Homo sapiens: one gene and its partners. The protein of the gene in region 1 purifies or fractionates together with the protein of each later gene. This does not show direct contact. Each region holds a gene or a part of one and is shown in the gene's direction. Other genes may lie near its edges. The genes, in order: ZC3HC1, ALDH3A1, NXF2B, EVPL, DSC3, KDELR2 and EHD4.

What was found.
Region 2: the proteins of ZC3HC1 (region 1) and ALDH3A1 purify together in Homo sapiens (affinity purification with mass spectrometry; one large-scale study listed by BioGRID and IntAct). This does not show direct contact.
Region 3: the proteins of ZC3HC1 (region 1) and NXF2B purify together in Homo sapiens (affinity purification with mass spectrometry, with the first as the bait; 2 studies listed by BioGRID). This does not show direct contact.
Region 4: the proteins of ZC3HC1 (region 1) and EVPL purify together in Homo sapiens (co-immunoprecipitation; 2 studies listed by BioGRID and IntAct, with this or other methods). This does not show direct contact.
Region 5: the proteins of ZC3HC1 (region 1) and DSC3 purify together in Homo sapiens (affinity purification with mass spectrometry; one large-scale study listed by BioGRID and IntAct). This does not show direct contact.
Region 6: the proteins of ZC3HC1 (region 1) and KDELR2 purify together in Homo sapiens (affinity purification with mass spectrometry, with the first as the bait; one large-scale study listed by BioGRID). This does not show direct contact.
Region 7: the proteins of ZC3HC1 (region 1) and EHD4 fractionate together in Homo sapiens (co-fractionation; one large-scale study listed by BioGRID). This does not show direct contact.

What each region holds. Positions count from the first base shown.
Region 1 is NC_000007.14:130,020,375-130,023,874, reverse strand, and holds part of ZC3HC1 (zinc finger C3HC-type protein 1), read left to right. Parts: intron 1-151; coding exon 152-364; intron 365-1,349; coding exon 1,350-1,556; intron 1,557-3,500. UniProt on the Homo sapiens protein: Required for proper positioning of a substantial amount of TPR at the nuclear basket (NB) through interaction with TPR.
Region 2 is NC_000017.11:19,745,499-19,749,708, reverse strand, and holds the start of ALDH3A1 (aldehyde dehydrogenase, dimeric NADP-preferring), read left to right. Parts: upstream 1-1,410; 5' UTR 1,411-1,450; intron 1,451-4,096; exon of another isoform or gene 4,097-4,210. UniProt on the Homo sapiens protein: ALDHs play a major role in the detoxification of alcohol-derived acetaldehyde. They are involved in the metabolism of corticosteroids, biogenic amines, neurotransmitters, and lipid peroxidation.
Region 3 is NC_000023.11:102,360,009-102,363,508, reverse strand, and holds the end of NXF2B (nuclear RNA export factor 2), read left to right. Parts: intron 1-63; coding exon 64-246; intron 247-2,656; coding exon 2,657-2,717; intron 2,718-2,863; coding exon 2,864-2,908; 3' UTR 2,909-3,114; downstream 3,115-3,500. UniProt on the Homo sapiens protein: Involved in the export of mRNA from the nucleus to the cytoplasm.
Region 4 is NC_000017.11:76,017,307-76,020,806, reverse strand, and holds part of EVPL (envoplakin), read left to right. Parts: intron 1-1,153; coding exon 1,154-1,279; intron 1,280-1,746; coding exon 1,747-1,893; intron 1,894-2,206; coding exon 2,207-2,361; intron 2,362-2,548; coding exon 2,549-2,646; coding exon of another isoform or gene 2,647-2,712; intron 2,713-2,895; coding exon 2,896-3,068; intron 3,069-3,500. UniProt on the Homo sapiens protein: Component of the cornified envelope of keratinocytes. May link the cornified envelope to desmosomes and intermediate filaments.
Region 5 is NC_000018.10:31,029,243-31,032,742, reverse strand, and holds part of DSC3 (desmocollin-3 isoform Dsc3a preproprotein), read left to right. Parts: intron 1-466; coding exon 467-551; intron 552-1,570; coding exon 1,571-1,770; intron 1,771-3,114; coding exon 3,115-3,234; intron 3,235-3,500. UniProt on the Homo sapiens protein: A component of desmosome cell-cell junctions which are required for positive regulation of cellular adhesion. Required for cell-cell adhesion in the epidermis, as a result required for the maintenance of the dermal cohesion and the dermal barrier function.
Region 6 is NC_000007.14:6,467,153-6,470,652, reverse strand, and holds part of KDELR2 (ER lumen protein-retaining receptor 2), read left to right. Parts: intron 1-898; coding exon 899-1,057; intron 1,058-3,500. UniProt on the Homo sapiens protein: Membrane receptor that binds the K-D-E-L sequence motif in the C-terminal part of endoplasmic reticulum resident proteins and maintains their localization in that compartment by participating to their vesicle-mediated recycling back from the Golgi.
Region 7 is NC_000015.10:41,966,058-41,969,557, reverse strand, and holds part of EHD4 (EH domain-containing protein 4), read left to right. Parts: intron 1-3,442; exon of another isoform or gene 3,443-3,500. UniProt on the Homo sapiens protein: ATP- and membrane-binding protein that probably controls membrane reorganization/tubulation upon ATP hydrolysis. Plays a role in early endosomal transport.

The sequences.
Region 1 (3,500 bases):
TGAGCCAAGATCGCCTCACTGCTCTCCAGCCTTGGCAACAAAGCGAGACTCTGTCTCAAAAAAAAAAAGAAAAAAGATTAAAGAAAGAAGTATTTCTGACCATAATCATTAATATCATTCGTGTACTTCCATTATCTCCCCTTTCCTTCAGGCTGAAAAGAGCCCTGGTCCCATTGTCTCTCGAACTCGGAGCTGGGACTCTTCCAGTCCTGTTGACCGTCCTGAGCCAGAGGCTGCTAGCCCCACCACCAGAACTCGCCCAGTGACCCGAAGCATGGGAACAGGAGACACCCCTGGCCTGGAGGTACCATCTAGCCCTCTGCGGAAAGCCAAGCGAGCTCGCCTCTGCTCCTCCAGCAGTTCGGTGAGTCCACCTCGCATGTAGCAGTGGCTGAGCATAAACAGCATATTGGGCCCTCCCTAGGCAGCATGGAGAAGCAGGCAGGAGCCCTTCCGTGGTCCAATGCAAAAAGTAGACCATGTGAATAAATTTAAAGTTGGATGACCAAAGGGAAAAAATGTCAGTCATGTTTTTTGCTCCTTTTTGTTCCTTTGGAGTGGATTCTGGAGAAATAATAGATATTTCAGGCAAATGGAACAACGGTGTGATACAGGGACAAACCTGATCTGGCAGCGGTCCCCAACCTTTTTGGCACCAGGGACCGTTTTCATGGAAGACCATTTTTCCACGGACCACGGTTGGGAGGATGGTTTCGGGATGATACGAGCACATTACATGTATTGTGTACTTTATTTCTATTATTATTATATTGTAATATATAATGAAATAATTGTACAACTCACCATAATATAGAGTCAGTGGGAACCTGCAGCTTGTTTTCCTGCAACTAGATGATCTCATCTGGGGGTGACGGGAAACAGTGACAGATCATGAGGTGTCAGACTCTCATAAGGAGCCCGAAGTCTAGATCCCTCTCATGTGCAGTTCACAGTAGGGTTCCTGCTCCTATAAGAATCTAATGCCACTGCTGATCTGACAGGAGGCAGAGCTCAGGTGGTAATGCAAACAATGGGGAGCAGCTGTAAATTCAGATGAAGCTTTGCTTGCCCGCCTGCTGTTCACCTCCTACTGTGCGACCTGGTACCCATCCATGGCCTGGGGGTTGGGTATCCCTTATCCCTTGTGATAAGGTATAGTTTGTTTAACACAAAAGGAGTGAAAAAATAAAGAAAATGAGAGGAAAATGTGTAGGCAAAGTTTGAAGGAGAGCATAAACACTCGAAGTATGGGTAGTTGTGAGATTCTGGACTTGATAACTAACAGCAGTGCCTCCCTGAACTTACATAGCATCTACCTATGAATGCTATTTCTTTTTCTCCTTCCTCAGGACACATCTTCCCGAAGCTTCTTTGATCCCACCTCTCAGCATAGAGACTGGTGCCCTTGGGTGAATATCACACTTGGCAAAGAAAGCAGGGAGAATGGTGGAACTGAACCAGATGCCAGCGCCCCAGCAGAGCCAGGCTGGAAAGCAGTGCTGACCATCCTCTTGGCGCACAAACAGTCTAGCCAGCCAGCTGAAACGGACTCCATGGTGAGATACGCCACTGCCTTGTGTGTGGGCAGCACTTGCTGTTTATGGGAGGTGGAGCAGAGGCTGGGCCTATAATTAGCACCCCGCCTGCCTTCAGCTTTCATACGTCAAGTTATTTGGGTTTTTTTGTTTGTTTGTTTGTTTTTTGAGATGGAGTCTCGTTCTTGTTGCCTAGGCTGGAGTCCAATGGCACGATCTCAGCTCACTGCAACCTCCGCCTCCTGGGTCAAGCGATTCTCCTGCCTTAGCTTCCCAAGTAGCTAGGATTACAGGCGCCCACCACCACACCCGGCTAATTTTGTATTTTTAATAGACAGGGTTTCACCATGTTGGCCAGGCTGGTCTCGAACTCCTGACCTCAGGTGATCCCCCCGCCTCGGCCTCCCAAAGTGCTGGGATTACAGGCGTGAGCCACCGTGCCCGGCTTATACGTCAAGTTAGACTCATTCTGCTTTCGTCCTAGGGATTAGGCATAGAACCGGTTCGTCTTTCTGTAGTTTAGCATATGGCATTCCGTCAAGTTCTGATAAATTCTTTTGTTCTCCTAAATAAAGTGACTCCAAGTAGAAAAGGAGTACGGAAACAGAAATAGATGAACAGGCAGCTGCTCCGGCCTCATGTTGCAGACAGCTGCTTTTTCTTTCATTTGCTGTCACTTGCACTTGGAGCCTGGCCAGTTAACTTAGCTGTTTGGAGCACTGGGCTCTGACACCAAGATGATGGCCTCATTCCGCACGCTGGGCACATTACTTTACTCTGTTCCACAGCCCAGACTGTGACTCTGCTAGCCATTGCAGCCATAACTGCTGTGGGTTACAAATGTGGGTGACAACTGAGAAGAAAAGTCAAGTGTTTGCTCTGTGTAAAGATTGGAAGTGATAGGCTGGGTAATATGGAACCATGAAAACTGGGTTCTCTCCTTCGCTGGCTCACTCCCAAATTTTCCTTGTAGCTGGTAACAATTTCTGATCGTAGTCTATAACTTTCAAGGACAAAGTAAAATAATACTTGTCAGCAGATATTTATGAGCAGCACTCCTAGATTCATGGTTTTCTAGGGTTACAGGATTCCACTGGAGGGAACTATAGTAATGCTAAAAGTCCAAAATTGCATGGCTGGGTGTGGTGGCTCACGCCTGTAATCCTAGCACTTTGGGAGGCCAAGGCGAATGGATCACCTGAGGTCAAGAGTTTGAGACAACCTAGCCAACATGGTGAAACCTCGTCTCTACTCAAAATACAAAAAAAAAAAAAATTTGCCATGTGTGGTGGCAGGCGCCTGTAATCCCAGCTATTGGGGAGGCTGAGGCTGGAGAATCACTTGAACCCAGGAGGCGGAGGTTGCAGTGAGCCGAGGTTGCGCTCCAGCCTGGGCTTCAGAGAGAGACGCTGTCTCAAAAAAAAATAAAATAAAAATAAATGTATATTAGTACCCTTAGTAAATATGCAGGTGAAGGTTTTCCAAGTTTTCACAGAAAAAAAAATCCGCATTTCTCTGCCTAGATCTTCAGGAACTAGTACATTGGCAGTTTTCAGTAAGACTCCTCTCTGTCACTGCCATACGAAAAAGAAAGCCTATGGGTTTTGTTTTTGTTTTGTAGTGGGAAAAGTTGGCCTCATAATTGGCCCTGGATTCCAGGACTTTTTTTTTCGGTAGTGTGTCTTAACCTTCTGACAGCTGCTGTGACGAAGCTAGAAAGCTTAATGAGACTGTGTGGTAAAGGATCCTGATGTTCGAAAAAAAAAAGTATATACCGAGGCCAGGCACAGTGGCTCATGCCTGTGATCCCAGCACTTTGGGACGCTGACGCAGGGGAATCACCTGAGGTCAGGAGTTCGAGACCAGCGTGGCCAACATGGCAAAACCCCATCTCTACTGAAAATACAAAAATTAGCCAGGACTGTTGGTGTGCACCTGTAATCCCAGTACTCCAGAGGCTGAGGC
Region 2 (4,210 bases), on another chromosome or scaffold:
CCCCACAGCCAGCCTGGCCCACAGGCCTCCGTGAGCCCCCGCCCCAGGAGAGTCATTCACCTCCACACCTCCTGCTGGCAACAGTGGACACATCGCACTTTTTCGTGACATAACGTTCCCAGCCTCTGTGCCTTTGCTTCTGCTCTTCCAGCCCCCTTGCTGTTCCTTGCCCAAATGCTTCTCACTCAGCTCAGATGATGTTCCCTCCCACGGACTCTCACCCCAGCCCCTCTAGCATCCTCTGCCTACCTGGTTACTACAGTGTTCACATTATTTTGAAATTTCCTGTTTATTTTGTCAGTCAATAAATATTTATTGAGCATCTACTATAAATGCTGTATGGAGGTTACAGCAGTGAACAAATCAAATTCTAGCTGTCAGGAGTTAAGGGACAGGTAGCAAACAAGATATAAACGCTCCAGAGAAAAAATAATGGAGGAAGACGACAGCATTGTGCTATTTTCCACAGCACATTGGAGCGTAGCCGTGTGGGTGGATGTAGGGGAAGGGGGCTCCAGGTGGAGAGAAGCAGGAGGGCCAGAGCACATCCTCAGGACTCGTAGGCCAGGACCGGAACCTTGTGTTTTCCTCGAATGAAATGGGAAGCAGGGACCCCATGCTGGTAAGCAGTCTGCCTGCAGGCGGGTGAGGGTGGCGGGAAGCGCCTGGTGAGAGGGGCCGAGAGTCTGTTCCACACCTGCCTCCTCCCCACAGCGTGGTGCAGAGCAGGAGCCCAGCGAACATTGATCAGACAGCGTGGGAACGGCTTTTCCAGACTCCTTCCTTCCCAAGCATCTCTGGTTTTCGGTGACCACACAGACCCTTGGCCCTCTTCTCAGCTATTCAACGAGAGAGCAGATTTATGGATTGGAGACCCCCATCAAAAGTCCCCAGCCTGTGGCTCCCCAGGGTTAGGATCTCTGACTCAATGGGGCCCTGTGCACACTGGGGGATGTGAAGGGCCCGGGGCAGCGGTGGCTGGGGGTGCGTTTCGGGGGAGCTGCATGCTCTCACTGTGGTTCGTGGCTGAGCCCTGCCGATCTTATGTAACCAGAGAACTCAGAGAACCGCATCTGGCAGCGGCAAGTCTGGAAAGCTGGAAGAGCTCCATGCCAGGCTGAATCAATCAGCAGCCCCCACGCCCAGGGCAAACATAGGCTCTTTTGAAGATTGGAGATGTGCCCTGCCCAAGCCTTCAGAAACATTCTCGCATTTCAGAAGTGAACAAAAGCAAACAGCCCGGGACCTAATCCCCAAAACCTGGGCTGTAGGGAGCAGAGGTCCAGAGGACGCCACACCCCACATTTGAATATTTTTTTTTCTTGTCACGCAAACTTCCTGGGCAGGAACTCCAAGGGCTCAATGGACGGGAAGCAGGGTCCTTAAATACGTCCCCTCTTGGCTCTTGCCGTTCCAGGAGCCCCAGTTACCGGGAGAGGCTGTGTCAAAGGTAATCCTCTTCCCTGCATTCCTTATTTTTTCTCTTGTCTAGGTGGAGTCTGCACTCAGAGCCGGGGCCCTAAGTGTCAAGAGTCCTACATCATCTCTCCAGGGGGTCCCTGCCTCTGGGACCATCATCTCTGGAGCATCCTCCTGGACCTCTGGCAGCTCTGCCATCCCCCAAACCAGGAGGCAGAGGTCCCAGGGATCCGCGGAGCAGGGACACCAAGGTGGCCGTGGAGTGAGAGGCCCTGATGGGCCGTCAGACTCCATGACTGGAAGGAAGGCAGCAGAGCCGAGTGCTAAAGGCATGAGCTGCTGACAGAGATGCATGTGGGTTCAAACCCTGACATGCCACCTGCTAACTGTGAGATCAGATACAGCATTAAACGTTTCTCAGTCTCCCTTTCCTCATCTGTAAAATGCACTCATAACCGTTTCTTCTTCATGGGCATCACTACAGAGCTTTTGTGAGGATGGAAGGCAATGAGGAGGGGAGGAGGTGTCACTGGGGGGCAAAGTCAACACTGGCACAGGTGAGAGGAGCGGGGTGCAGGAATGTGGGGTGTGAGGCGACGGGCTCTGGGGAGGCCCCCAGTGCATGCTGCAGCAGCTCCCATTTGGGTGCAGCTGCGACGTGATGGTGTCCACTCATCTCTGTGAAGTGGCACCTTTGTTAACCTGTCTCTCGGGGAAGTCCTGGGAAGGCCGTCCAGCCCAGAGACCACAGTTCCAAGTGGCGATGCTGGGGTGCAAGGCCAATCCCGTCCCACGCTCACCAGGCTCTTCCCACCTGGGCTGCCTGCCTTGGTTTGACCGTACAAGGCTCGGGAGAGAAGCGGGACCTTCTCTCCTGGGTTGTGGTCAGCAGGAGGGGCCTGGCCCATGGGACTGAGGAGGTCCCAGTGAGGGGGCTTTCCCAGCCTCCTATCAGAACATAGGGAGGGACCATGGAAGGGCCAGGCTTAGAGCACCCTCAATGCCAGCAGGTCCCTCCTCCCTGTGCAGAAAGCCTGGGATTAGGGGTCAGCCTATGGGGAGGGGAGGCAGAGGAAGGATTGGAAGCCACTCGCTGGAATGTAGGCAGGACCATATATCTATATACAATATAATTATATATTACATATGATATATAGGGTTTTTTAAAAAAATGGAAATACCCTATTTCTGCTGATGTTAAAAGTTATGCCGGGTCTGCAAGTGGGCTGAGTATCTCAGGAAGGGGAGTAAGGAACTGGTAACAGTGGCCCCTCTGTGGGGCAGCACCTGACAGCTGATGGAGCAGGGAGGAGGGAGGCAGACTTTTTTCTGTGCCCCTTTGCTATATTTTACATTTTGTTTCATGAGCATGTAGTGCCTATCTTAAAACGCACCAAAATTTAAAAAATACAAGCTCATTGCAAAAAGTCAAACATTGCATAAGAGGAAAACAGATCATCAATAATTCCACCCCCATCAGTTGTCTCATCGTGTCGGGGGCTACCGTTCTAGTCCTTTCTTGCATGTTAGAGCGTGCACGCCCACACACACACGCACACGCGCGCACACACACGCACATGCACACACACGCACGCACACACACACGCACATGCACACACACGCACACACACACATGCACACACACGCACACGCACACACACACACGCACACACACACATGCACACGCCTGGTACATCTGTTGTTCTGTAACTTGTTTTCTGTTTTTCTTTCTTTCTTTCTTTCTTTTTCTTTTTTTAGATGGAGTCTCGCTGAAAGTAATTATATTACTTACCCGAGGCCTTCAAATACCGCTTCCACTGACAGCCTCTTGACTTCTAGCAAATCTCACTAACCTTGCCTTACCTCCTACCACTAATCTAATAGGAGAACTCTGTGATTATGGCTCCATTCTCCCGGTCAAAGTGCTGGAGTGCAATGGCCCAATCTCGGCCCACTGCAACCTCCTCCTCTCAGCTTGGTTCAAGCAATTCTCCTGCCTCAGCCTCCCAAGTAGCTGGGACTACAGGTGCCTGCCACCACTCCCAGATAATTTTTGTATTTTTAGTAGAGACAGGGTTTCACCATGTTGGCCAGGCTGGTTTTGAACTTCTGACCTCAGGTGACCCGCCCACCTCAGCCTCCCAAAGTGTTTGCTAGGATTATAGGCGTGAGCCACCGCGCCCGGCCTGTAACCTGTTTTCTTTCTTATCCCCAGTGCCTGAGACACCCCTGGTGCAGAGAGAGCCCCTACAAACATGCTGAATAGCCTGCTCCACCTAATCCCTAAATACTGCACAGTAAACCCTTACGTGGGTGTGACAGGAGTCATTTAAACTGTCTCCTTTCTTTCGGATCTTTGGGATGTTTACAATACTTCCCTGTTATAGAAAACAGTGATGACTTTCTTATTCGTGAATGTTTAGGAAAGGCTGTAGGACCTTTTCGTCACAGAGAAGTATGTTTGAAAAACTTTTGCCACATATTGCCAAATTGCCCCCAGCAGGGCCATCCCGATTTGCCACTATACTTTCGTGTATTGGTAGCAGGAATCGCCTCCACACCTCTTTGTGGAAATCTGCAGCTCTCTGAATCCTTGGCGGGCATGGGCGTGCGTCTCCCAGGTGTGGCACGCGTGGTTTACACACCAAGCCTGGTTCAGCTCTGCCAAGAAACCAGCGCTTTTTAGAACAATGGCTTAGCCAGGAGGGTGGTGCTGGGTTTTTCTTTATCGGCTTGGGTGTGGAATCGCGGACTGCGCCCCTCCAATCTGATCTGGAGAGTGGCTGACTGC
Region 3 (3,500 bases), on another chromosome or scaffold:
TGTTGTTGGGGGTGCGGAGTTATCTACTTGTCCAGTTTGAGGGTGCATTTTTCTTTCCTCCAGTCTGTGCATCGTGAATGACGAGCTGTTTGTGAGGGATGCCAGCCCCCAAGAGACTCAGAGTGCCTTCTCCATCCCAGTGTCCACACTCTCCTCCAGCTCTGAGCCCTCCCTCTCCCAGGAGCAGCAGGAAATGGTGCAGGCTTTCTCTGCCCAGTCTGGGATGAAACTGGAGTGGTCTCAGAAGTGAGTGCTGGGAGTACATGGGGATGGGGGCTGTTGGGACATCAGAGGAATGAGTAATGGAAACTCACATGCAATTTGGAAAAATAACTATCTGGGTATTTTGCTTCCAAAAAAAGTGGGTCCATGAAAAAGGTATCATACTTTTATACTGGTATATGTAAATATTTTTTTAAATGGCATAATGCCCAAATGACATTACCTTCCATTTGTAAAATCTGAAAGAATCAACCACAATAAACTACTGATAAACCAGGTCAGCAAGGTTGAAAGATACAATATACAAAAATCATTTGTACTTCTATGTAGTTGCAATGGACAATCCAAAAAAATGAAATTAAGAAAATAAGTCCATCTACAGTAGCATCGAAAAGAAGAAAGTATGTAGGAACAAATTTAAGAGAAGAAGCGCAAATCTTGTACTCTGAAATCTGCAAAACATTGCTGAAAAAAATTAAAGAAGACCTAAATACGTGGAAAGGCATCCCACGTTCATAGATTGGAAGACTTAATATCATTACGATGGCAGTACCACCCAGAACAATCTACAGATTCATTGCAGTCCCTGACAGAATCCCAACTGACTTCTTTGCAGAAATTGACAAGGTAATCCCAAAATTCATGTGGAAATGCAGTGGACCCCAAACAGCCAAAACCATCTTGAAAGAGAAGAACAACGTTAGAAGACTCACACTTCCCGATTTCAGAACTTGCTACAAAACTACATTAATCAAGACTGTATGGTACCGACATAGGAACAGACGTGGGAATCAATGGAATATAATTGAGAGTCCACAGATAATCTCACGTATTTATGTCCAGTTGATTATCATTCAGGGTGCTGAAAAAATCCAATGGAGAAAAAAAATAGTCTTCTTAACAAATGGTGCTGGGAGAAGTGGATATCCACTTGCAAAACAATTAATTTTGACCCCTAACTCACATCACGTGCAAACACTGGCAGAAAATGGATCAATGACCTAAAATAAGAGCCAGAACTGTAAAACACTGTAAGTGTACATCTTCATTACCTTGAATTAGGCAACCATTTCTTACATATGAAACCAAAAGCACAAGCAACCAAAGAAAAAATAGGTAAATTGGACTTCATCTAAATTAAAAGCTTTTGTGCATCAGCAGACACTATCAAGAAAGCGGAAAACCGACTGGTGGGAACAAGGGAAAATATTTGCAAATCACATCGCCGACAAGAAGAACCCTTACAACTCAACAACAAACAGACAAGCCACCGAATTAAAAAATGGGGAAATGATTTGAATAGATGTTTCTCCAAAGGAGATATACAAATGACCAAGAAGCACGTGAAAATCTTCTCAACATCGTTAGTCATTAGGGAAACGCATATCGAAACCACAGTGAGTTACCACTTCATACCCACTACGCTAGCTTTAGTCCATAAAAGGAAACATGACAAATGTCGGTGAGAATGCAGAGAAATTGGAAATCTCATGTATTACTACTGGGAACATAAAGTGGAGCAGTTGCTGGCAAAAAGATTTTGGCAGTTCCTCAAAATCTTAAACATGGAGTTACCACATGATCCAGTAATCCCACTCCTAAGTGTATACCAAAAGAAATGAAAATATATGCCCATTCAACAACTTGCACATGAATTTCCGTAGTGGCATTATTCCAAATAGCCAAAAAATGGAAACACATGGATTGACCTTCAGCTGATGAATGGATAATGTGGTACATCCATACGGTGGAATATTATTAGAATATTATTCATCCACAAAAAAGGATGTAGTTGTGATATATGCTATGACGTGGATGAACCCTGAAAACATTATGTGCTAAGTGGGAGCACCCAGTCACAAAAAGCCACATAATTATATGATTCCATTCATACGAAGTGTTCAGAATAGCCAGATCCGTAGAGACCGAAAGCAGAGTAGTGGTTGCCAAGATCTGGGGAAGAGGGAGAACAGGGAGTGATCTCTAACAGTTAAGGAGTTTCTTTTTGAGGTGATAAAAACAGTTTGGAATTAGATAGGTGTGATGGTTGCACAATCTTGTGAATAGACTTAAAAGCACTGAATTGTACACCTTAAAATGGTGACTGCTACAGTATGTGCATTATATCTCAATAGAAAAGAAACGTATTATTGAATTTCCACTTGTTATTTCTTGAACATCTTTCTTTATCAATATGTATTAAGCTCCCTTGTTCATTTGAATACCGCTATGTTTCTGATTTGAATTCTAGTGGGCATTAATGTCAGGGATGGGCGTTTTGGTTTTCCCCAGGCCTTTTTTCATTGTTACAATAGTGCTCATATTGGTACATGTGACCCAGCAAAAAGGTAGCATAGATTAAGGGTGGCATTGCATAGTCAGCGTGTCTGTCCTGGGCTAGTAATGGAGAGCACCTGTTCTTCTCCCACCCCAGGTGCCTTCAGGACAATGAGTGGAACTACACTAGAGCTGGCCAGGCCTTCACTATGCTCCAGGTGAGGTCTGGGAATCAAGTGGGTAAAAGACAGCTGTCTCTGGGTCGTCAGGAGGGCCAAGAAGATGGAGGCCAGGTAGTGTGGGGATGGAACCCAGTGCACCTGGCTCTACTAACATCCCAACTCCTTTTCTTTACTTTCTCTAGACCGAGGGCAAGATCCCCGCGGAGGCCTTCAAGCAAATCTCCTAAAAGGAGCCCTCCGATGTCTTCTTTGTCTTCGTTCACATCCTCTTTGTTTCCTCTTTTCACCAGCCTAAGGCCTGGCTGACCAGGAAGCCAACGTTAACTTGCAGGCCACGTGACATAACCACCCAAAGAGCCAGTTGCTCTGTGTATTCGCCCCACTCATGATCACCATTTTATTTTCATAATAAAGAGTGACGTTACACGTTGTACATTGTGTGCCCTGGATTGCTCTTCCCCTGCCCCAGCCGTGAGCCAGCGGGACCAGGACTGAAAGCACTGCATCCCTGTTCATCCCTGGCTGGCCTTAGCAGATACATGAATCTGGCTTGCCTTCATAGGTAATTTTGTCCGTAAATCCTCATGAGAAAGGACACACGCTCCTTCCAGAGACTGGCCTTGAGAGACAGTTGGACTCTGTCAGATGCTCGACCTGGAGGCCCACAGAAGCAGGCATGTTACCTTGGCACACCAGGGGCTTCCATCCACCGTCCCGACCCCTCCCTTTCCCAAAGGTGCACTTTTCGAGGAGTCGTCTCAGGGTAGCACCTGCGGCGGGGGGTGGCGGGGGAGGGGGATACTCAGCCCATCTACCCGG
Region 4 (3,500 bases), on another chromosome or scaffold:
GCCAGGAGAATTGCTTGACACCAGTAGTTCCAGACCAGCCTGGGCAACATAGCAAGACCCTGTCTCTATACAAATAGATACATCTCTATCAAAATAAATAAATAAATAAAATTTTATGGGGATGAGGTGGGGGGAAATTAAATAAAATATTTCTTAAAAGGCTCTTTAGGAGAATAATAATGAAAAAAAAAACGGTTGAGAAACCCTGATATAATATGCAACTGGGATTTGGGGGCAGATAATGTTTCATACATTTTCCTATAGAACCACAAGACTGTGATCACACACGTTGACAAAAATTCCGTCAAAGCACCTGGAATGCTTCTTTAAAGCACAGCTTCTTCTCCGGGGCTGGGACAAGTGCAGCTCCAATACCCTCTGTCCCAGCAAGAAAGACTTCAGGTGCTGGAGGGAGGCAGGTGACGGTGCCCTTCATTTGTGCAGGAAGGACGAAGACCAAGTGTTTTATGACCCACTTAAAAAAATTAAGTTCAGTGCACAAATAAGACCCCATTTGCAAGAGCACACCAGTGATAAAAGGTCCTGCCGCCTGGGTAGGAAAAAGAAAGACCGACCAGAGTAGGGGAGAGTGACAGTTTAGGTTTAGCTGGTTTAAGTTTAGCTGGTTTAGGTTTATCTGGTTTAAGTTTATCTGGTTTGTGTTTAGCTGGTTTAGGTTTATCTGGTTTAAGTTTATCTGGTTTGTGTTTAGCTGGTTTAGGTTTAGCTGGTTTAGGTTTATCTGGTTTAAGTTTATCTGGTTTGTGTTTAGCTGGTTTAGGTTTAGCTGGTTTAGGTTTATCTGGTTTGTGTTTGGCTGGTTTAGGTTTAGCTGGTTTCGGTTTAGGTGGTTTGTGTTTAGCTGGTTTAGATTTAGCTGGTTTAAGTTTAGCTGGTTTAGGTTTACCTGGCTTAGGTTTTTCTGGTTTAGGTTTAGCTGATTTGTGTTTAGTTGGTTTAGGTTTAGCTGGCTTAGCGGTTACTGGTTTAGTTTAGCTGTTTCACATTTATCTGGTTTGTGTTTAGCTGGTTTGTGTTTAGCTGGTTTAGGTTTAGCTGCTTTGTGTTTAGCTGGCTTAGGTTCAGCTGGTTTGTAGGGTCAGTGGGCAGCAGGTTGCACGAGGCTCTGCCCTTGACCACCCAGTGAACTCAGTTCCAGGAAGAGGCCGACTCAGTCAGCCAGACCCTGGCGAAGCTCAACTCCAACTTGGATGCCAAGTACAGCCCTGCACCTGGGGGCCCCCCTGGCGCCCCCACAGAGCTGCTGCAACAGCTGGAGGTGAGACAACCCCACCAGGCCGTCTGCACCCCACTTCTGGGAATTGGTCCTGTCCATTTTTCTGGGCCTCACCCCTTCTGCCTTGGTACCTAGTCCTATCCCAAGCCCTGGCCTGGGTGCTGGCAGGGGGGTTTACTCTAGCAGGAGGCTGGCCAGGTACCAGCAAGCTCCTCCCACTTCTGGACGTCAGTTTCCTCATTTGCAGTGGGACAAGGGCAGCCTGGGAGAGCTCTGAGGCCTGTCTAGCTTCTGCTTGGTGGCCTGGGTGATGCTGTGCCATCCCCCTCCCTGCAACTAGCAGATCCCAGGATCCTAGGTCCCCCAGAGAGGGGCTCCTTTTACTTTGCTGACTTAGAGACCCCTGCCTTCATGAAGGCCAGCCTCTAGGCCTTTTGAAGGACAGGTATGGTGTGGCCAGCCTCCAATGCAGCCTGGCCTGAGTCCCCCACTGCCTGGGCCCCCGGCAGGCAGAGGAAAAACGGCTGGCCGTCACCGAGAGGGCCACTGGGGACCTGCAGCGGCGAAGCCGGGATGTGGCCCCTCTGCCACAGCGAAGAAACCCCCCTCAGCAGCCCCTGCACGTGGACAGCATCTGCGACTGGGACTCAGGAGAAGTGCGAACTCCCCCACCTCACCCCTGCCACCATCCAGCCCCGCCCAACCCATCCCCTGCCCCTGCCCAAGCCCATCCCTGCTCCATCCCCAGCTGTCTCCTGCGCCCACTTTTGCCCTACTCCTTCCCTTGACTCAGACCCTCCTCTCTCCAAGTCCTGTCCTGCCTCTTTTCTACCCCAGCACCTCCCACCCTACTCTTGTCCCTGTTCCAGCTGCTGTCCCCATTTGTCTCTGTCCCCAGCCCCTACTCTGCCCTGGCCTTGGCCCCCTGCCCCTGAGCCCTCAGGAGCTGCTCCCTTTCTGTGCCCCCAGGTGCAGCTGCTGCAGGGTGAGCGGTATAAGCTGGTAGATAACACTGACCCGCACGCCTGGGTCGTGCAGGGCCCTGGCGGGGAGACCAAGCGTGCTCCCGCCGCCTGCTTCTGCATCCCAGCACCAGACCCTGATGCTGTGGCCAGGGCCTCCCGGTAGGTCTGTGTAGGGATACTCAGGGGCAGGCTGTGGGCAGAGCAGGCCGGCCCTGCGGTGTCCAAGCCCATGGCCCAACAGACCCCTGCTCAAAGGCTGGCCTTCACCTGAAGCTGCGTCTACTGGGGCTGGGGAGGGAGAGAGGCAGAGTGGGGACCTCTTTCTTCAATCTCCTCTTCATTCTAGGCTGGCCTCAGAGCTGCAGGCCCTGAAGCAGAAATTGGCCACAGTCCAGAGCCGCCTGAAGGCCAGTGCTGTGGAGTCTCTTCGGCCCAGCCAGCAGGGTACCCAGGGTGGCCCGGGGAGAGGTGGCTGTGGGGCTAGAAGGAGTAGATTCCGACTTCCGACTGGTCTGTGATGGGCAGGGGTCGCCTTGGGTTAGGGACCATCACTCTGGGGATTTCATCTCTGGGGTGGCCCTGCCCATCCCCTCCACCCTACCCCGACAGGACCCTCTGTGGGCACCTGGTGGGGGCACCTATCTGGCAGTCTGGAGATAGGCCCTGGGCCCTCACCAGCACCTCTGCCCCCAGCTCCATCTGGCTCAGACCTGGCCAACCCACAGGCCCAGAAGCTCCTGACACAGATGACCCGGCTGGATGGAGACCTGGGACAGATAGAGAGGCAGGTGCTGGCCTGGGCGCGGGCCCCGCTGAGCCGCCCCACACCCTTGGAGGACTTGGAGGGCCGCATCCACAGCCATGAGGTGGGTGAGCAGCGGGAAGGGGCGGCTGGGATGAGAAGCGGCCCGGCCCTGGTGCTCACACTTGAGGGAGGTGAGGCAAGTGCAGGAGCGGTGGCTGGGATGGAGATGGAGAAGGGTGTGGACAGACCCGGGCTCAGACAAGCTGGTTCCCCTCCTGGCTCCTCCACTGACCAGCTCCAGGATCTTGGACTACATAACTCTCTGGGCCTTGGTTTCCTCATCCCTGAAGCAGATGTAATAATGCCCAGCTCGCCTGATCATTCAGGAAGGTTCCAGTAGGGCCCAATGTCAACACCCCAGGAGGTATTCTGGTGAAGCTCCTGAAATAGCAAGGAAGCCTGGAGAATCTTAGGAAGAGATGTCCCCTGGCTGCAAGGGGGAGCCTACCTGGGGAGGTTGCAGCATTGTGTAAACTCCTTACCCAAGAACAGC
Region 5 (3,500 bases), on another chromosome or scaffold:
GCGCCTGTAATCCCAGCTACTTGGGAGGCTGAGGCAGGAGAATTGCTTGAAGCTGGGAGGTGGAGGGTGCAGTGAGCCAAGATCACGCCATTGCACTCCAGCCTGGGCCATAGAGTGAGACTCAGTCACACACGCACACGCACACGCACACGCACACACACACACACACACACACACACACACACACATACACACAGAAGCAGTTAGAGCAGAGCAGACATCATTGTCTTGTTCCTGATGTTAGAAGAAATGATTCTGTTTTTCTCCTTTAAATATGAAGTTAGTTGTTGTTTTTCATAAATGAACTTTACCATATTGAGCAAATTCCTTTCTATTCCTAGTTTGCTGGGGTTTATTGTAAATGGGTGTTGGACTTTGTCAGTTGCTTGTTTTACATCTATTGATATGATTATGTTTTTTTTAATCTTTATTTTCTACTGTATTAATGTGACCTTTTAAATTCTAGATCTTCAGTCGTGCTGGTGAAGCCTGCAAAAAGGTGATACTTAATGTACCTTCTAAACTAGAGGCAGACAAAATAATTGGCAGAGGTGAGAAATTTTAAAAGTCTTTTTAAAGCAGAAATTTAGTTTACATAGGCTGGAAAGAGCATGATATAATACCTTTGCCTTTTGGAGTTAGCCTGAATCTACTAAAAAGGGATGTTCCTCCAGGGAGTAAACCAGAAGTTATCATTCTGTTAAAAATGTGAAGAGAGAAATATGTCATCAGCCCTGAAGATGTTTATTTATTTATTTATTTTTGCTAAATATTTCCACCTGGGACAGATTTGAATTAAAGTGAAAACACGACTCATGGACAGCAAATGAACCCTTTGAGAGGTCTTTTCTTAACTGAGTAGTAATTTATCCATTTGCCTTATGTTAAGACAAATAGTTGAAGAATGGCATGGATGACAGGTACATTTTGATATTTATATGCATTTTATTACCTGTTACTAGAGGCCAGAAATCCCAGGGAAGAAAGACTCCATGTAGAGTTTCAGTGTGCGGCCTTGGAAAGCTTGGAACACACAGAGTATTTTGGGCCTCCAGGGAAAATTGTGTACAGAAAAGTGCCAGTGGGAAGAAAATTTCGGAGATTGGATTTTTCTAACATGACTCTTTACCAAACTCATACACTCCATTGCTCTTTGGCTCATGGCTTCTCACTGAATATAGGTGTATCTTAAACACTCAGATTGTATTGTTAGGGAAACTCTTCTATATGTTTATTCAGGTGTGTTGGGGGCATGTTGCTCAGTTTTGTCATGATTATAACATGCCCACATCTTTAATTGGAAGGTCATTTTCATAAGTCTATTAGAAGCATATAAAGGTTTAAAACACCTTATTTAATAGAAATATACACTCAATAATTATTTGTTAACTGAAAGAAAATGATCATTTTTTAAGTAATGTAAAAAACAGGTTAAGATATCTGGTAAATGCAAAGTGATTGGCTTATTTCATCCCACTTCATGGTTTTTAAGAATATTATATAAATTATTTTAACACGTTTTTTTTTCTCATGTGTTTTTACCTTACAACTTGGAAATTTTTACTTGCAGTTAATTTGGAAGAGTGCTTCAGGTCTGCAGACCTCATCCGGTCAAGTGATCCTGATTTCAGAGTTCTAAATGATGGGTCAGTGTACACAGCCAGGGCTGTTGCGCTGTCTGATAAGAAAAGATCATTTACCATATGGCTTTCTGACAAAAGGAAACAGACACAGAAAGAGGTTACTGTGCTGCTAGAACATCAGAAGAAGGTATTTAAAGTACATTAAATATTTTCAGTCATTTTTTCATTAAAATACTCTTATTAAAAATTGCAAAGAGAAACAAGGATAAATAGGGTATTTTCCCCTTTTGTTTTCATTTTGTTTCCTTTCCTTTCACTTCGTTTCCATTTTCTTACCCTTTTCCTTCCCCTCCATTTTCTTACCCTGTCCTTTTCATTCCTTCCCTTTTCCTTCTCCTTTCCTTCCCCTTCCTTTTCCCCTTCCTTTTCTTCCCTCCCTGTCACCTTCCCTCTCTCCCTTTTTCTATCCTTCTCTCTACCTCTCACTCTATTTTTGTCTCTCCCTCTCTCTCTTTCTTAACACTTGTTGAACTCTGGTTTTGGTTTTACTTTATTAAATCTGAATTATTTCTCCTCTGTGAGGGCTTCTTCCACCTCTACATTCTAACTATTGTCTTTTGTGCACTGGTGTCAGTTTGGTTATCCCTCTATTATAGAACTCAGAATTTTTTTACTGCAAAACCTTTACAGTGAGGAATGCCATTATGAAAGTAGTCACAAAATGATGAAAGGTTTAGACTGGATTACATCTAATCTGTGTTAACTGTATCAATAATAAAGCTAATTTAAGTTACAGCTTAGCACTTTGCTAAATGTTTAATGCAATTATTAATTAATTCTTATGAAATAAAATGTCTCCCTTGCTGCATCATGAAATGAGATGGACATCACTAAAAAGTCTAATAGAACTTTTTCCCATGATAGAGATGGCACTATCTGCACTGTTTGATATGACAGCTCAATATTAATGGCTACTCTGCACTTGGCATGTGGCTAGTGCAACCAAAGGATAGAGCTTCTTATGTTATTTAGTGTCAGTTAATTTAAATTTAAATAATCACATGACTTATGGTGGCCAAGGGCTACCATATCAGACTGTGTAAATAGAGCACTATGGCAGTGAAGGACATACATTTTCTTTCTCTGACCTAAGGGCATGAGCTTTTAACTAAAAGAACAAGTAAGTGCTATCTGGAGATTGTTGTAGACAGAATATGTTCTATGTCTCCATTTGGGACAAAGCAAGAAGAACTAAGAATATAGTGGTGATTTTCCTAACATGAAAGTATAGTCAGTGTTAGAATGGTATACAAAAAGAAATTCTCTGTTTCTTGAAACCTTTAAAATCTGGATATGTTCTTTCTTACCCTTCTAATGCAGAAAGACTTTATTAACTGGTTTAGCTCCAGCATGGAAATGCCTGACACTGAAACTCCAAAGAAGGATTAGGTTTATGAGCTGTCCACTATTTTACACAAAGTAGACTGTGATGCTTTTGTTTATTCATGTATTTGTTTTTCTCTAAATTCAGGTATCGAAGACAAGACACACTAGAGAAACTGTTCTCAGGCGTGCCAAGAGGAGATGGGCACCTATTCCTTGCTCTATGCAAGAGAATTCCTTGGGCCCTTTCCCATTGTTTCTTCAACAAGTAGGTTTACACCTTTTCTGGTCAGGGTTGCTTTAATTCTAAGAGTCTGTTTCATTGAGATTTAATACCTCTTTAAACATATAAAAATAAACAGATCTGATTAAAGATGTTCATGAGGTGTAACAAAAGTAAAATGAGAAAGAAAATTACTAAAAACCTAATAATATGAGAAAGGCCCTAAAGCCATTGAATGATCTTTATTTGTTTATTCATTTATTTAGCAGGGAGTTACTGAGCACTTAACTATATCCTGCGGGAGGTACTGC
Region 6 (3,500 bases), about 120 Mb from region 1:
ACAAATATAGCAGGCTCACTGAGTGCTTTTGTACTACATTGTTTATTGTGGTACATATGTATAATTATTGTATACTACTTTATGAATTATTTTACCATAGTTTGTATTCATTTTCCAACCCACTTACTTCATTTCAGGGTCCCAGGTGGCCAGAGCCTATCCCAGCAGCTCAGGTTCAAGGCGCGAACTTTCCCCCAACTGCATAGGATGCCATTCCATCACAGGGCGCGCTCACCCACACCCACTCACACTAGGACAGTTCACACATGCCAGTTCACCTAACTGGCATCGTTGAGATGTAAGAGGAAACCAGAGTATCTCTGGTGGGAGATTCTCCAAGAGTATCTCTTGGAGAAGACCCACGTGGACTCGGGGAGAGCATGCAAACGCCATGGATGGCGGCCCCAGCCGGGAACCAGTTTCTTTTCTCATCAGTGTTACAACCAAAGGATGTTATTGGCAGACCTGCTATACACACAATAAGTTTGGTTGCCTCTCAGATGCATTAGGCTAACTGAAATTGGACCCAGAAGGCAACATACTATGTGACTCCATTTATGTGGCTTTCTAGAAAAGGCAAAACTATGGACAGAGAACATAAGTGTGATTGCACTGCAGGAGGTGAAGGAAGCCTGGGGGAGTTTGACTGCGAAGCGGCAGCATGGCAGAATTTTGGGGATGATGGAACTATTCTGTGTCCTAATTTTGGTGGTGGTTATGCCTCAGAACTGAACACCTCCAAAAAAGAGAATTTTACTATATTTAAGTTTTAAAATTCCAAAAACAAAGCTAAGGAAAAAAATCTTGCCTTTCCAAATACATGGGTGATTAAAAAAGCTGGGGGGTGCTGGAACAGTGGCAAGGTATTGACACCTGGTGTTTTTTCTTTTATTTGTAGGTTATCTACCTTGCCTGCTCCTATGCCACAGTGTACCTGATCTACCTGAAATTTAAGGCAACCTACGATGGAAATCATGATACCTTCCGAGTGGAGTTTCTGGTGGTCCCTGTGGGAGGCCTCTCATTTTTAGTTAATCACGATTTCTCTCCTCTTGAGGTTAGTTTAAAAGGTTACTTAGGGCCAGGCATGGTGGCTCATGCCTGTAATCCCAGCATTTTGGGAGGCCGAGGCGGAGTTCAGCCTCCACTTTGGGTGGATCATGAGGTCAGGAGTTCGAGACCAGCCTGGCCAACATGGTGCAACACCGTCTCTACTAAAAATACAAAAAATTAGCTGGGTGTGGTGGCACGCACCTGTAATCTCAGTTACTCAGAAGGCTGAGGCAGGAGAATCACTTGAACCCAGGAGGCGGAGGCTGCAGTGAGCCGAGATCACGCCATTGTACTCCAGCCTGGGTGACAGAGCAAGACTGTCTCGAGGGAAAAGAAAAAAGAGGTTATGGCTGGGCGTAGTGGCTCACGCCTGTAATTCCAGCACTTTGGGAGGCCAAGGTGGGCACATCACGAGGTCAGGAGATCGAGACTATACTGGCTAACATGGTGAAACCCCGTCTGTACTAAAAAATAAAAAAAATTAGCTGGGCATGGTGGCGGGCACCTGTAGTCCCAGCTACTGGGGAGGCTGAGGCAGGAGAATGGCGTGAACCCGGGAGGTGGAGCTTGCAGTGAGCTGAGATTGTGCCACTACACTCCAGCCTGGGCGAGAGAGTAAGACTCCGTCTCTCAAAAAAAAAAAAGAGGTTATTTAGGTCTGGGCCTGGTGGCTCACCACACCTGTAATCACAGCATTTTGGGAGGCCGAGGTGGGCAGATCACTTGAGGTCAGAGGTTCAGGCATTCAGCCTGGCCAACATGGTGAAACCCTGTCTCTATTAGAAATACAAAAACTGGCCATGCGCAGTGGCTCACGCCTGTAATCCCAGCACTTTGGGAGGCTGAGGCAGGTGGGACACGAAGTCAAGGGATTGAGACCATCCAGCTAACACGGTGAAACCCCGTCTCTACTAAAAATACAAAAAACTAGCTGGGCGTGGTGGCGGGCGCCTGTAGTCCCAGTTACTTGGGAGGCTGAGGCAGGAGAATGGCGTGAACCTGGGAGGCGGAGCTTGCAGTGAGCCAAGATCGCGCTACTGCACTCCAGCCTTGGCGACAGAGCGAGACGCTGTCTCAAAAAAAAAGAAGAAAGAAAATCAAAAATTAGCTGGGTGTGGTATCGCACGCCTGTAATCCCAGCTACTCAGGAGGCTGAGGCAGGAGAACCACTTAAACCTGGAGGCGGAAGTTGCAGTGAGCCGAGATCGAGCCACTGCACTCCAGCCTTAGCGACAGAGCAAGACTCCATCTAAAGAAAAAAAGTTAATTTCATGGTCATGTCTGGTTATCTAGAATGGACCTATTTGCATGTTTGCAGATCGTGTAGGTTTTCATGGAGTTTTTTGTTTTTATTTTCTGGTTTGGCAAACTCTAGTGCAATGTTCATGACTGGTGTAAAAAAATCGTAGATGAGAATTAAGCACCCACATATTTAGGTGTCTGCTGACAGTTTACTGTCTGATTCATTTGAAATAGAAACTTGAAACTGTATTTCATTATCTTGACTTCAGTGGTACCAAACACAGAGCCCTGCCTGTCCCAGTGTGGGAAGAACAAGGTCTCCCTCCTGTAGCCCACATTTTGTTTGCTTTTCATGTACAGATGTGCACTGATGTCGTGTCTGTGACCCTGCTTAGCAGCACTCTGCACCTCTTGCCTTTAGGAAAGCTGGTTTGTGGTGCCCCTAGTACTGTGCAGTGAGCTGATCTGCTCCTGAGTGCCTCTTCTTTCCCTGCTGAACAGGCAAACGGTGCTGCTTCACATCCTGGGGCCGATCAAGTCACTGTGCTACCCTGGGTGTCTGATGGGTGCTGGGAGTGCCTGGACTTTTCTTTTTTTTTGAGACAGAGTCTCGCTGTCACCCAGGCTGGAGTGCAGTGGCATGATCTCGGCTCACTGCAACCTCCGCCTCCTGGGTTCAAGCGATTCTCCTGCCTCAGCCTCCCGAGTAGGTGGGATTACAGGCACCCACCATCATGCCTGGCTAATTTTTGTATTTTTAGTAGAGACCGGGTTTCACCATGTTTTCCAGGCTGGTCTTGAATTCCTGATCTCAGGTGATCTGCCTGTCTCGGCTTCCCAAAGTGCTGGGATTACAGGCATGAGCCACCACACCCAGCCATGCCTGGACTTTTAAAATACTCAAGGACCCTCTGAAAGTCCTTCTATCATCATCGTGAATAAAGTCATACGCTGGGCAGAGAATTTCCATAATTACAGTTGTGACTTCTACCCCTTTGATTTAACCACACCAGAAAGCTTAAGGAATAAGAAAAATAGTGAAAATATTTCAGTAGTTTGGCAAGATCAGTCAGTGAGGAAAAACAGCAGTGAGGAAGTGGAAGGAGCTTATCAATTATCAGTATTGTCAATCCTGGCGGAAAGCAGGGTTGATTTGGTATCCCAGATCTGGAGCAGGACAAGCTTGTCCAGGAGAAACCTCTGTA
Region 7 (3,500 bases), on another chromosome or scaffold:
ATTTTTTTTTTTTGAGACAGTTTCGCTGTTGTTGCCCAGGCTGGAGTGCCATGGCATGATCTCGGCTCACCGCAACCTCCCCCTCCCGGGTTCAAGCAATTCTTCTGTCTCAGCCTCCCGAGTAGCTGGGATTACAGGCATGTGCCACCACGCCTGGCTAATTTTGTATTTTTAGTAGAGATGGGGTTTTTCCATGTTGGTCAGGCTGGTCTCAAACTCCCGACCTCAGGTGATTTGCCCGCCTTGGCCTCCCAAAGTGCTGGGATTACAGGCGTGAGCCACCGCGCCCCATCCCAAACTACACATTTTTAAGAGCTCCACTTTCTCCCTTCATATGCTCTGTTCCCTCTCCCCAGAAAACTTATTCTAATGAGGAAAAAAGAGGGAAGTCACTCAAGAAACTATATAGGCTTTAAAAGGGTAGAGAGCAGGGAAATAAGGCAAGAAAAGAAATAAACTCCCAGACTGGAGAGAAAAAAGTAAAACTCTTTGCAGATGACATGATCTTCTATGTAGAGAATCCTAAGAAACCACTTAAAAACTATTAGAACAATGGGGGAAACTATAGTTCAACAAATGGTGCTAGGACAACTGGATAGCCGCATGCAAACGAAATAGAGAATGACTGTTAGTGGGCGTGGAGTTTCTCTTTGATGTGATGAAAATGTTCTGAAATTGGATAATGATATTGGTTGCACAACTTTGTGAATATACTAAAGGAGTGCACCCTGTAAAAGAATAAATTTTCTGGTATATGAATTATATCTCAATAAAAAACCAAAACAATTCAGTCTTTCAACACTAAGCATCATGTGATTTAATTTTCATGATTCTGCAACTAGCGCCAGCCAAGTAATTTCTGCATCTATGTGTAATAATTTAAAATAGAAATGGATGCCAGAAAGAAAACAAAGTAGAAATAAGCTAGAAGAACCCAAGGGCAAAGGAACTAAAGAGTAAAGATGAGGGGCCAGGTGCAGTGGCTCACACCTGTAATCCTAACACTTTGGGAGACTGAGGTAGGTGGATCGTTTGAGCTCAGGAGTTCAAGACCACCCTGGGCAACATAGTGAGACCCCATCTCTACAAAAAAAAAAAAAAAAAGGAGTAAAGATGAGGGAAAAGGGAGTGAAAGTAGCCATCCCACAATCCCTGTATGAGTATTCTTGTCAATGTATAAACATGTTCATTGTTCATAACACTCAAGTTGGTAAAATCAAAGTATGATAAAAATTTTTAATAAAATGCTTGATACCGTAATTGTGTTTAAAAACTTTAGATATTAACATTTAACTATAGTATTTAATAGGGGAAAAAAGGGGCAGGGGTGCATGTGCAAGGGTGCAGACAAGGTTTATGGGCGGTATGAAGGATCAAGAAGCTGGAGTGGGCTGAGAAGGTAAAAGTGCCTTGGACATTAAAAAAGCCTTTTAAGGTATGATTAGAACAAGAACAAGAATCAGGAAGTGATCGGCCCACTCATGGGCTCTTGCTGCAATATTAACAGAAAGCAGAACTACTCAGCTTCCTCCTTTTCCTCAAAGAAAATGCCCCAGAGATGGCAGAAGGGAGCCCAGCTGTGTTCAAGAGGGGATTAAAACCACAGGCTGAGGAGCTCTCCCAGGGCCTGCCACAGGCGAGGTTCAGGAAATCTCTGGCCGGACACATGGATGAAAGAACTTGCATTTCTGCTCAAAGAACTGTATTTGGTGGCTTTTAAGAAATTGTGAAGAATATGAAAAGTATTGGAACACTGGAAGCAGGCAGATGTTCTCATTTTCAAAAAAGCAGGGAAATGGATTCTGAATAGGAACAAAGGCCTGCTTCATTCCCTTGATAAGTTTCTAGACTCAGTAATTAAGGAAAAGGGAAGTGAAGGCATTCACTAATAGGCAGCCTGGTTCATCTATTTTTAAAAAAATAAAATCTCACACAGAAAAACTATGGGTCCTATTTAGTGGTTCTCACACTCATCCAGATACTGGGGCTCCTGAAAATCAATCTTCTGTTCCAAATATTATACCCTTTACAGATCTCTCTAAAATATTGAGATATTTAATTTTTACAGAAAATTAGACTATATTTTCAATATACAATATAAGATCACACCTACAGATGCTAGTGTTCATTTATTCAAATGATCTTGATTTCAGGGTTGGGGCCAGCCATCACAGAAGAGAGTCAACAGGCCACAGCTCTGAGTGACAAGGGCTGTAACACTAGAAACACAGGGTGGCTGGGGGCATAGGAGGGACCCCCTCATTCAGGCTTGCGGGTTGGAAAAGGCTGCCTCCCTGAGAATGCAGCCTAAAAGCTGAGCCCTGAGGAATGAGCAGAGAATTAGCTGCCCAAAGAGGGCCAGGGAGTGAGGGTGGGGAGGTGTCACCCATGAGGCCTCGGTTTCTGGGGTAACTGGGGAGTACAGCTGTTCACTGAGATGGGGATCCAAGAAGAGGAAGGATGGGGCATAATGATAAGTTTAGATTTAGACCTGTCATGTTTGAGTGGACACCAAGGTGGCGATGTCCATGAGGGGTAAGACATGGGTCTGGAGCTCAGGGAGATATCTGGGCTGGTCTGTTGACTTGGGAGTGTCAGCATTTAGTAGCCAGCATCTGGGAAGTAGAAGTCCTTGCACAGGACTCTTAAGTGAGAGGAAGCAGAGCTTGTGGAGACCCTCCGGGGAAAGTACCAAAGAGGTGGGTAATTGCCTGGGAGGGTAGTGGCTCAGTGCTGTCTCAGATCTCTTTAGGTTGCAAGTGACAGAAATCCAACCAAAGCTAGCTTAGATAAAAAGATAAGAACGTTTTCCTGAAACCCATCAGACCAGGATGTGCAAGCTTCAGGCTTGGCCCAGGACTGCAGGAGACACACCAGGACTCTGTTGGCTCTGTGGCCCTCCTCATGTTGTGTTCCTTCTCAGGGGTGGGCAGGCGGCCACCTCCATTTCCAGCCTCGAATTCTGCTGGCTCAGCAGCCCCAGTAAAAGTCTCAGGCTTGAGTCTCATTGGTTTGACCCTGACCATATGCCCATCCCTGAACCAATCCTTAGGGGCAGGGGCATGAAATGTGGGGAGTGGGGAGGTCAGCCCCACCAACCACGTGGCCTGAGAGCTGGGGAAGGCAGCTCCTGAGGATGCTGCTACCAAGAAAAGGGGATACGAGGCAAGTAAAGCAACGATGACCCCCACAAAAGCCAGGGAGAGAGGTGGTGGTCAGTAGTGTCAGATGCTTCCAGGAAAAGGACTGAAACAGAACCAGTAGATTAGCCTTTGGGAGCCAGGTGACCTTGCCAAGAGGTGTGCCTGTGAGTGGTGGTGAAGGAAGCCAGATGGCGCGGGTTGAGGAATGAGTGGGATGTGAGGCGTCAAATTCTCAGCAGCTAGGCCTGGGGGAAGGAGGCCTGGCCACAAGCATCACAGGGGTTTGGGTAAAGACAAGCACAACCTCAGCAGAATGAAAAGTGGACAGAAGGGAAGCCATGGAGAGGGAGCAGCTGG